3 separate regions of the Homo sapiens genome follow, and all the other regions are linked to region 1. Evidence: fine-mapped expression QTL. A gene starts in region 1. Each other region holds a variant in brackets. All regions are shown on one strand. Distances are between the middles of the regions. Region 1 holds the start of FAM234B (family with sequence similarity 234 member B). Region 2 overlaps GPRC5D-AS1 (GPRC5D and HEBP1 antisense RNA 1). Region 3 overlaps GSG1 (germ cell associated 1).

Region 1 (2,765 bases):
CTCAGGGCCAAGCTGCCTGCCAAACAGGCCCATGGACTGGACTATGGGAACCCCAACCAGTTCCTACAACTAATACTCCAGGGAGTAATAACACCACAGCCTTGGGGCATAAGAACACAAAAGACCTCAAGAGTTGCTAAAGCAAGATTTTCATGCATTCTCATTCTTAGAGAATAACAATGACCTACACTGAAATTTTAAAAAAGGACTCTAAAAGAAAAAAAAAAAAGAAATAAAGCTAAATGTCTGACATCTTATTACCCCTCTGGGAGGACATCATTCTACACTAAGGATATACAAAGTAAAAAAGTAAAAAATTAATCCTGCAGGTAAAGGGCCACGTCTCTCCTTTAATTCCAGTGTTATGCACACATTCCAAGGCAGATGCTATCAGTGTTCCTTCCAATGTTCCAATGAGCCCATATTAAAAAAAATAATAATCTGTCTGAGGTCATGAAGTCTGGGGACAGAAACGCAAATTAATATCCAACCTAGCGTCATCCAAATGGCAAGGTTCGCTTCAGGGTAGCATACTGGAAGCTCCTTGAGAACAAGGACCCTGTAATCCCCCTGCAAGCTCAAACTAGCTATCCAACCAAAACCCAAATAGCCCTCTCTAGAGATAGCTATGAAAGCAACTGCTTTTCCCTCTAATACAAATTATCAGCAAATAAATGTTTATAGCTTAATGCTTAAAACTTACCTAGGTAGAGCCATCAATTTTTCTAAAGCCTAATGTTTAAAATTTACTTGGGTGGAATAAATATACTTTTATTTAAATATCAACTTTCTAACAGTACAATCCTACTCTGGAGGTTTAGGAGGAAAAAAAAAAAAAAAGGAAAAAAAACTTGGAGCTGCTGCCCGAAGTACTGAATCAGCTCTGGAAGTTGTCATCACCCCTAATGCTGCCTTAAAGAAGATTCCATACATTATCTTCAACTTATAGGTGCCAAATCATTTCCCATGCTTAATCTCGGCAGCTGGAGACTGACCAAGTGGAATCAAAAGCTCAGGATTTAGAGTGAAAAGACCCCTGACGTTCAAGGCCGAGCTTTCCCAATACTTGTGAGACCTTGGACAATTCACTTAGCCAAATAACTCTCATTTTCTCTTCTGTAAACTAGGAAGGGACGTAAATACCTGTCCCACCTGCCTCATGGATGCGTCGTTGCTGCCGTTAGGTGGAGGGGATGATCCACAGAGGGCCACTCGCCGTCCCGCCGCCCCCGCCCAGGTCCAGCCAAGACAGAAGGCGCCGGAGTCCCTGCGGTGCTGGGTCCGCGGCGCTCGGGAAGGATGCTCCTCTCGCCAGCCTCCCCTCGGGACAGCGGCGACCGGCGTTCTGACATTCCCCGCCGTAACACCTGCTCGGCGCCCTCTCCCCGCGCGTCTCCGGGTTCGCCCCGCGCCCGAGACCCCTGCCCCGCTGGGCGCCCCTCTCGCCCTCTGGTGGCACAGAGACCCCAGCCCCAAGGGACTGCACCCTCCTCGGCACCGGGCGCCTGCAGCTGAGTCTGGGTTGAGGCCAGGGCCCGACCGGCCTCGCCCCCAGAGCCTCGCCTCCCCTTATTCCAACACCGGCGGGGACTGGGTGGTCGCAAGCATGCGACTCCTTACCCGGCAGCTTGAGCGCCCTGGACAGCACGGTCGCCATGGCTGAGGCCCCGGTGCGCGTGCGCGCGCCCGCGTTCTGCCGGGAAGTGTAGTTCCGAGCGGCGGTGCGTGGGGCTGGGACCGGGAAAGGTGGGACCCGCTTGCTGGGGACAGAGCTGAGGGAGGCCAAGCCAGAGTACACGCTCCGCAGGCTTTTCTCCCACCCTACCTATGCAGGTCACCTCACCACTCTGAGTCTCACTTGCCTCGTCAGTGAAATGGGGAGAAAATACCCCGTAAGCTTGCAGTGAAAATGATTCGAAGGAGATATTTAAGGAGGTGTGGATTGTGCAATGTGCGTGGGCTTTGAAATCAGGCAGACTGGATTTGAATCCTGCCTGAATCACTTACTAGCTGGGCCATCTTGGGCAAGTCCCTTGGGGCGACTGAGCTGCCGCTGCTTTTTTTTAATTAAAGACATACTACCTACTTCACAAGCTTGCAATGAGAATTAAATGATACGACCTGTTTAAAACACACAGCACACAGTAGGCACCTAGTAAGAGTGTTTCTATTACGCTTCTTAGGTAGAAGTTGAAGTTTCCTGGAGCTCGAACCCTCATTTATTGCTCCCAGTTCTTTACAGGTGTCTACTCAGCACCCTACGCTGCAGCTTCTAGTTGAAGGGTGTAGAAGGAGGATCCGACTGTGTACATACATCCAATAGATGCAGCATCTCCAGCTCCTCAGATTTCAATGCTTGACCTTTAAGGCATCTGCACGCTCCCCGTAATCACCCCAGCTTTGCCTGAATGATTTTTGCGGAGAGCCCGATGCCCAGGAATTCCTCCTTCCTTGGCTCCCTGAGCTTTCCCCCACTTTGTCTTCCTTGTCCCTCTGGAAATCTCCTTCATCCCTCCATAACTTTTTTCCATTTTAACATAGGAACTGCAGCTTAGAATAGTATTTCTCAAATTTAATGTACTTTCTTTTCAATTAAAGAAAAAAATTCAAAGCAGCTGCCAAATGAATCAGGATCCTTACCTTTTACATAGAGAATACCTGTGTGTTCCTCTCTAGCTACTGAGTGGAATGTGAATACTTTTGCTGCCCAAACACCCACTGAGGTCACTGTGGAAAATGCAAACACCCAGGCCCTCTCTGACTTC
Region 2 (2,765 bases), 34 kb after region 1:
TTAAGAACAAGGATATTCTCTTACACAACCACAATATAGTTATCAATGTCAGGAACTTTAATATTGATATAATACTTTTATCTAATCTACAGTCTGTATGCTAACTTAATCAATTTAATTCTACTAATGTTCTTTAGAGTATTTTTTCTTGGCACAGGGTCCAGCCCATAATCACAGATGACATTTACTTGTAGTGTCTCTCTAGTCTCGTTTAATTTGAATCAATTCTTTAGCCTTTTCTTGTCTTTTAAGACATTGACATTTTAAAAGAATATAGATTAGTAATTTTATGATATTGAAATAGTTGCTTCAATTTGGATTTTTCATCATTCTTCTCCTTTTTTAGGTTAAGATTCACTTACAGAGCACTTACTATGTGCCAGGCCCTGTTCTAAGTGCTTTGCAATTATTAATCCTCATAACAAGCCTCTGAGGTACACATTATCATTATTTCCATTTTTCAGATGACAGCCCTGAGGCAAAGAGAGAGTAAATAAGTCGCCCAAGGTCACCCGACTTGTAAGCAGGGATTTGAACCGAGGCAGCCTGGTTCTGGAGCCCTTGCCTGTAACCTTCTTCCTTCTCAGTAAACTCCAGCCACACTGGCCTCCTTGCTTTCTTCAACATGCCAGGTATTCTCCCACCTCAGGGCCTTTGCACGTGCCTTTCCGACTGACTTGAAAACTTCTCCCCTAGCTATCTTCTCAGTGATGCCCTCACTTTTTGGGGAGTCTCTGTTGAAATGTCACCACCCTATCTAAAGTGGCCCACACTGACATACGTTGGCCTTCAACACACACCACCTGACCTATTACATATTTATGAATGTGTTTATTTACTGCCTGTCTCCCACGCCGAAATGTAAACTCCAGTAAAGCAGGGGTTTTCGTCTGTTTTGTTCACTGCTACAGTTTAGAACCCCGTAGACTACCTGGGAACTTGGGTAGGTAGTAAATAAACAGTGGTGAATAAATTTAACACAAATCAGTAAATTTAAATCTATAAATTATTTATAAATTTAAACAAATCAGACATTTAGAAATGTTGAACATTAAAGAAGATGACTTTTCATTTTATAATTTAGAAAGAAAGATGAAAGGAAACAATTTCTTAGTGAGTAAATATTGCTGGTACCCTATGTTCTGATGGGAGACAGAAGAAAAAGCATGCCACTGTGGGCAGGGAGTGCTTCAGGGTGGGCCCACCCTGAAGAGGGGAGCATGCCCACAGTCAGACACCCTGGGAGGAGCCCTGTCCTGGATGAGAAATGCTGGTGGAAGCACAGGCAACAAAAGCAAAATAG[G/A]CAAATGGGATTATATCAAACTAAAAAGCTTCTGCAGGGCAAACAATTAACAGAGTGAAGAGACAGCCTACAAAAGAGGGGAAAATACTTGCAAACTATACATCTGATAAGGGGTTAATACCAAAAAATGTATAAAGAACTCAAATAACTCAATAGCAATACAACAAATAATCTTATTTTTAAAATATGGCTGAGCGCAGTCGCTCACGCCTAAAATCTCCGCACTTTGGGAGGCTAAGGTGGGCAGATCACTTGAGGCCCGGAGTTCGAGATCAGCCTGGCTAACATGGTGAAACCTGTCTGTACTCAAAATACAAAAATTAGCCAGGCATGGTGGCGCATGCCTGTAATCCCAGCTACTCAAGTGGCTGAGGCAGGAAAATCACTTGAACCCAGGAGGTGGAGGTTGCAGTGAGCCGAGATTGTGCCACTGCACTCCAGCCTGGGTGACACAGCGAGACTGTCTCAAAAAATGAAAATAAATAAAAAATTTTAAAAAAATTTACAGGCAGGCCAGGCGCAGTAGCTCACGCCTGTAATCCCAGCATTTTGGGAGGCCAAGGCGGGCAGAACACCTGAGGTCAAGAGTTCAAGGCCAGCCTGGCCAACGTGGTGAAACCCTGTCTCTACTAAAAATACAAAAATTAGCCGGGCATGATGGTATGCACCTGTAATTCCAGATACTCGGAGGCTGAGGCAGGAGAATCACTTGAACCCGGGAGGCGGAAGTTACAGTGAACTGAGATCACACCACTGCACTCCAGCCTGGGCAACAGAGCGAGACTCGGTATCAAAAAAAAAAAAAAAATAGACAAAGGACCTGACCTGACTAGACATTTCTCGAAAGAAGACACAAATGGCCAACAGGTTTATGAAAAAGGCTCAACATCACTAATCATCAGAGCAATGCCAGTTAAAACCACAGTGAGATGTCACCTCCTACGTCATAGAAAGGTTATTATCAAAAAGACAAAAAAGACAACCAGTGTTGGCAAGGATGTGGAGAAAGGAACCCTTGCACACCACTGGTGGGAATGTAAATTAGTACAGCATTAATTTCCATCCTTTGTGTATTTGGAAAATAGTATGGAGGTTCCTCATGGAATTAAAATTAGAACTACCATGTGATCCAACAATCCCACTTCTGGGTATACATTCGAAGAAAATGAAATCAGTGTTGAAGAGATATCAGCACATCCATGTTCATTGCAGCACTATTCATAGTACTTGACTTGAATCAAAGCTATTGGCTTTGCTTAATGAACAGTACTTCAAGTAGGCAAGATATGAAATCAACCTAAGTGTTCATCAACAGATGAATGGATAAAGAAAATGTAGTATATATACACAATGGAATCCTATTAAGCCATAAAAAAGTAAGAAAATCCTCTCATGTGCAACAACAGGGATGAAAATGGAGGATACTATGTCATGTGAAATAAGCCAGGCCCAGAAAAATAAA
Region 3 (2,765 bases), 50 kb before region 1:
CTCCAAAGAATATGAGATAGAAGGGGAGGGGTAGGAGGAGAGGGAGGAGGGTAGGAAGACAGTTTGCATTCTTGCAACATTAAACCAAAGGGACTTGGAGTGCAGATGGCATCCTTCGGTTCTTCCAGACAAGCTGCAAGACGCTGACCATGGCCAAGGTAACCGGCTTCCCCTCCTATTGCTCAAAGGATGCAGTCTACAGCTATTTTGTACCTGGCTCTTTTAAGAAGTGCACCTGCCTCATCGATCTGTTGTCCTTCCTAGCCTATGCTAATTCTGGGTTACTCTGTTAATATATGCTGATGTAAGGGTTACTGATTATACATTGGCGCCTACGCACTTCCTAATGATCTAAGGGCCCAAGTGTTAGAGAAACCACTCTGTCCCTTTTCTAGCGAGTAAAGAGTCACCTTGGCATGGGATCTGTTGCATACACAAAGATAGAGTTGTTCTTATGGCCATTACTTCTTCAGGATCACTTTATGGAAACCATTGCAAAATTAGATTTGTTCTTCCAATTCAAGAGGTATCCCGACCCTAGCAGGAAAAGGCATGTTTGGGGAAAGGAGTAAAGTATGTGACAAAGGGCATGGTACTATAGGTGTTGGAGATAATTCTTGAAAATTCTTGAATGAGATGATCATTCGATATCAAGAAGATGATTTTTGAATGAGGTTCCTTGTGTCTCTCCCTGGTGGACACTCCTTCTGGAAGGAACCTCTTTGAGCTTCAGTCCAAGCTCTTTTTTATTCTTTGTTTCTCAAATTGCCTCTTCCTTAAATTGGTTGTCACCTTGGTGCCACAAAGTGGGTGTATCTTAGTATGGGGTTCGTTATTCTTTCTTATTTCTGAATAACCCCGAGAATAACTTGCAAATATATATAACTTGAAGTGGATTGAATGTGGAGTAAAAATCTTGCAAGTATAACTTGAAATGGATTGAGTGTGGGGTTAAAATCTGATGTGATAATAGACAAATTTCCAAACCAGAATGAAAATGATTGTTGAAAAATGAATGCTGAGGTCACAAAAGTTAGAATTGCCTAAGTCTTTAGGTCAGTCTTTACACCAAATAGTTAGTGAAGATGTTTTACCTGGAAGTCCATTTCTTATTCAAGCAATGTAAGAATTATTAGAAAGGATGACTCACAGTAAGAGAATGATGACTAAAACCCATAGGATTTTCATAACTAAAACCAAGATGAAAACATTTTAGGAAAGGGGAACTGGGCAACACGCGACTTCAGTGTCTACCAACAGAAAATCTTTCCTCCTCCCAGATGCTGCGGATTTTTTGTCCTTAGTCAAGGTCACCCAGAGTCTTGCAAGAACTGACAATTCTTGGCAGAGTTAATTTGTTGAGTGCCTTTAAAAGTAAAATCATATTAGCAGATTGCTTTTCAGAAGTTGTCTTTATCATGTTTTACATATTGGTTTTACATACATATGATCTTTGTGTATTTCTTATTGCCATAAATAATAAGCATTTTGTGATATGCACTGTCTTAGTCCCTGGAAATTCTGAAGAACAAATTGTTTCATTTCTCAGGTAAAGTTCTCTCTTAAATGTAGAAACAGTAAGCTGGGTGTGATAAGGGAGGGAAATTTATGGACCTGTCCATTTAGCTATGGTTTTATTTATGGCTCTTAAG[ATAAGC/C]AGATTTAAGTGTGATTAATTCTGATATGAAGGATCCCCTGGAAAGCTCAAGAAGGTTTACTTTAAGAAGCGTCTGTCAGCAACTAACCATGGGCTTCTTTTCTGTTCCATGTGCATTAATATAACTGTATAAACTGCTCTAACACAAAGTGAGAGACTTGCCAAATTACTTCTCTAAGTCCAATTAAATCTGGCTCCAAGCCACCACTCAGCAAAGTTGGCCGTCTAATACCAGTCATATTTTAGCTTGCCTCCTCTTCTCTTAGGCTGAAAATGACATGGAGAGTAGGGGCTCCTGCCAGAGCCATCTGGGGCCTCAGTTCTTTCGGCAGCCTCCCCTATGTCCCCACTGTGAGGCAGGCACTTCTGCACCAGGCTGGAAGACACGGCCCTCCAGGTTCCTCTCCACTGACCAAGGGCTTGGCTGCCGACACCCTACCCATGGCTCTGTGGACACCAAACCTGGTGTCCAGCCTACACAGGCACCACACAGCCACCTCGCATTTGAAACTCTATTGTCTCTGTGGCAGTGGATGGAAGCTGGGCCCGACTGCTACCTCTCCCAGAACCATAAGCCCCATCTCCTTTCCAAAGGTTTCAATAGCCCCACATCCCAGTAGGTTCACTGCCCTCTTTTATCCTCCAGGCCCCAAAGCATCCATCTGCTTCCCCCGGAGATTTCCAGTTTAATATTCATTGCTATGACTCCTTTCAGAGGAATCTGTAATGCAGGGAAAAGGACACCAATAGCTCACTTTGTTACAATAGCAAATGCTTCAGCAAGTCAGTGCTACTACCTGTCAGTGAAGACAAAGCCAAAAACGATTATCACAAAGAGCATTTGGAATGCTCCCAATTCTTTTTTCTAAACTTTTATATAAAGTTTAGACTTTACATAAAACTTTTCCAGAAGTTATCAATTGCCTTGTCAATTATTAATTATATAATTATATATTTATATGTATTAATGTTATTTTACATAAAGTTAAAAGCTTATATAACCGGCCAGGCGTGGTGGCTTAACGCCTGTAATCCCAGCACTTTGGGAGGCCGAGGCGGGCAGATTACCTAAGATCAGGAGTTTAAGACCAGCCTGGCCAATATGGTG

Evidence for each region. PIP is the estimated chance that this variant, and not a neighbour inherited with it, causes the effect.
Region 2: its variant is the best candidate, but not a certain one, in a credible set for the expression of FAM234B in unexposed skin (GTEx, PIP 0.79).
Region 3: its variant is the best candidate, but not a certain one, in a credible set for the expression of FAM234B in pancreas (GTEx, PIP 0.71).

Annotation. Positions count from the first base shown.
Region 1 is chr12:13,043,296-13,046,060 of GRCh38, reverse strand. It overlaps FAM234B (family with sequence similarity 234 member B), which reads right to left and starts at 1,680. Exons shown (of 13, transcript NM_020853.2): 1 at 1,621-1,680. The coding sequence starts at 1,657.
Region 2 is chr12:13,009,180-13,011,944 of GRCh38, reverse strand. All of the region lies in intron 2 of GPRC5D-AS1 (GPRC5D and HEBP1 antisense RNA 1), which reads right to left. Among named protein-coding and RNA genes, the nearest start is that of HEBP1, 10 kb to the right of the region's middle. The variant G/A (reference allele first, on the strand shown) is at 1,304.
Region 3 is chr12:13,092,992-13,095,756 of GRCh38, reverse strand. All of the region lies in intron 1 of GSG1 (germ cell associated 1), which reads left to right. Among named protein-coding and RNA genes, the nearest start is that of GSG1, 9.3 kb to the left of the region's middle. The variant ATAAGC/C (reference allele first, on the strand shown) is at 1,653.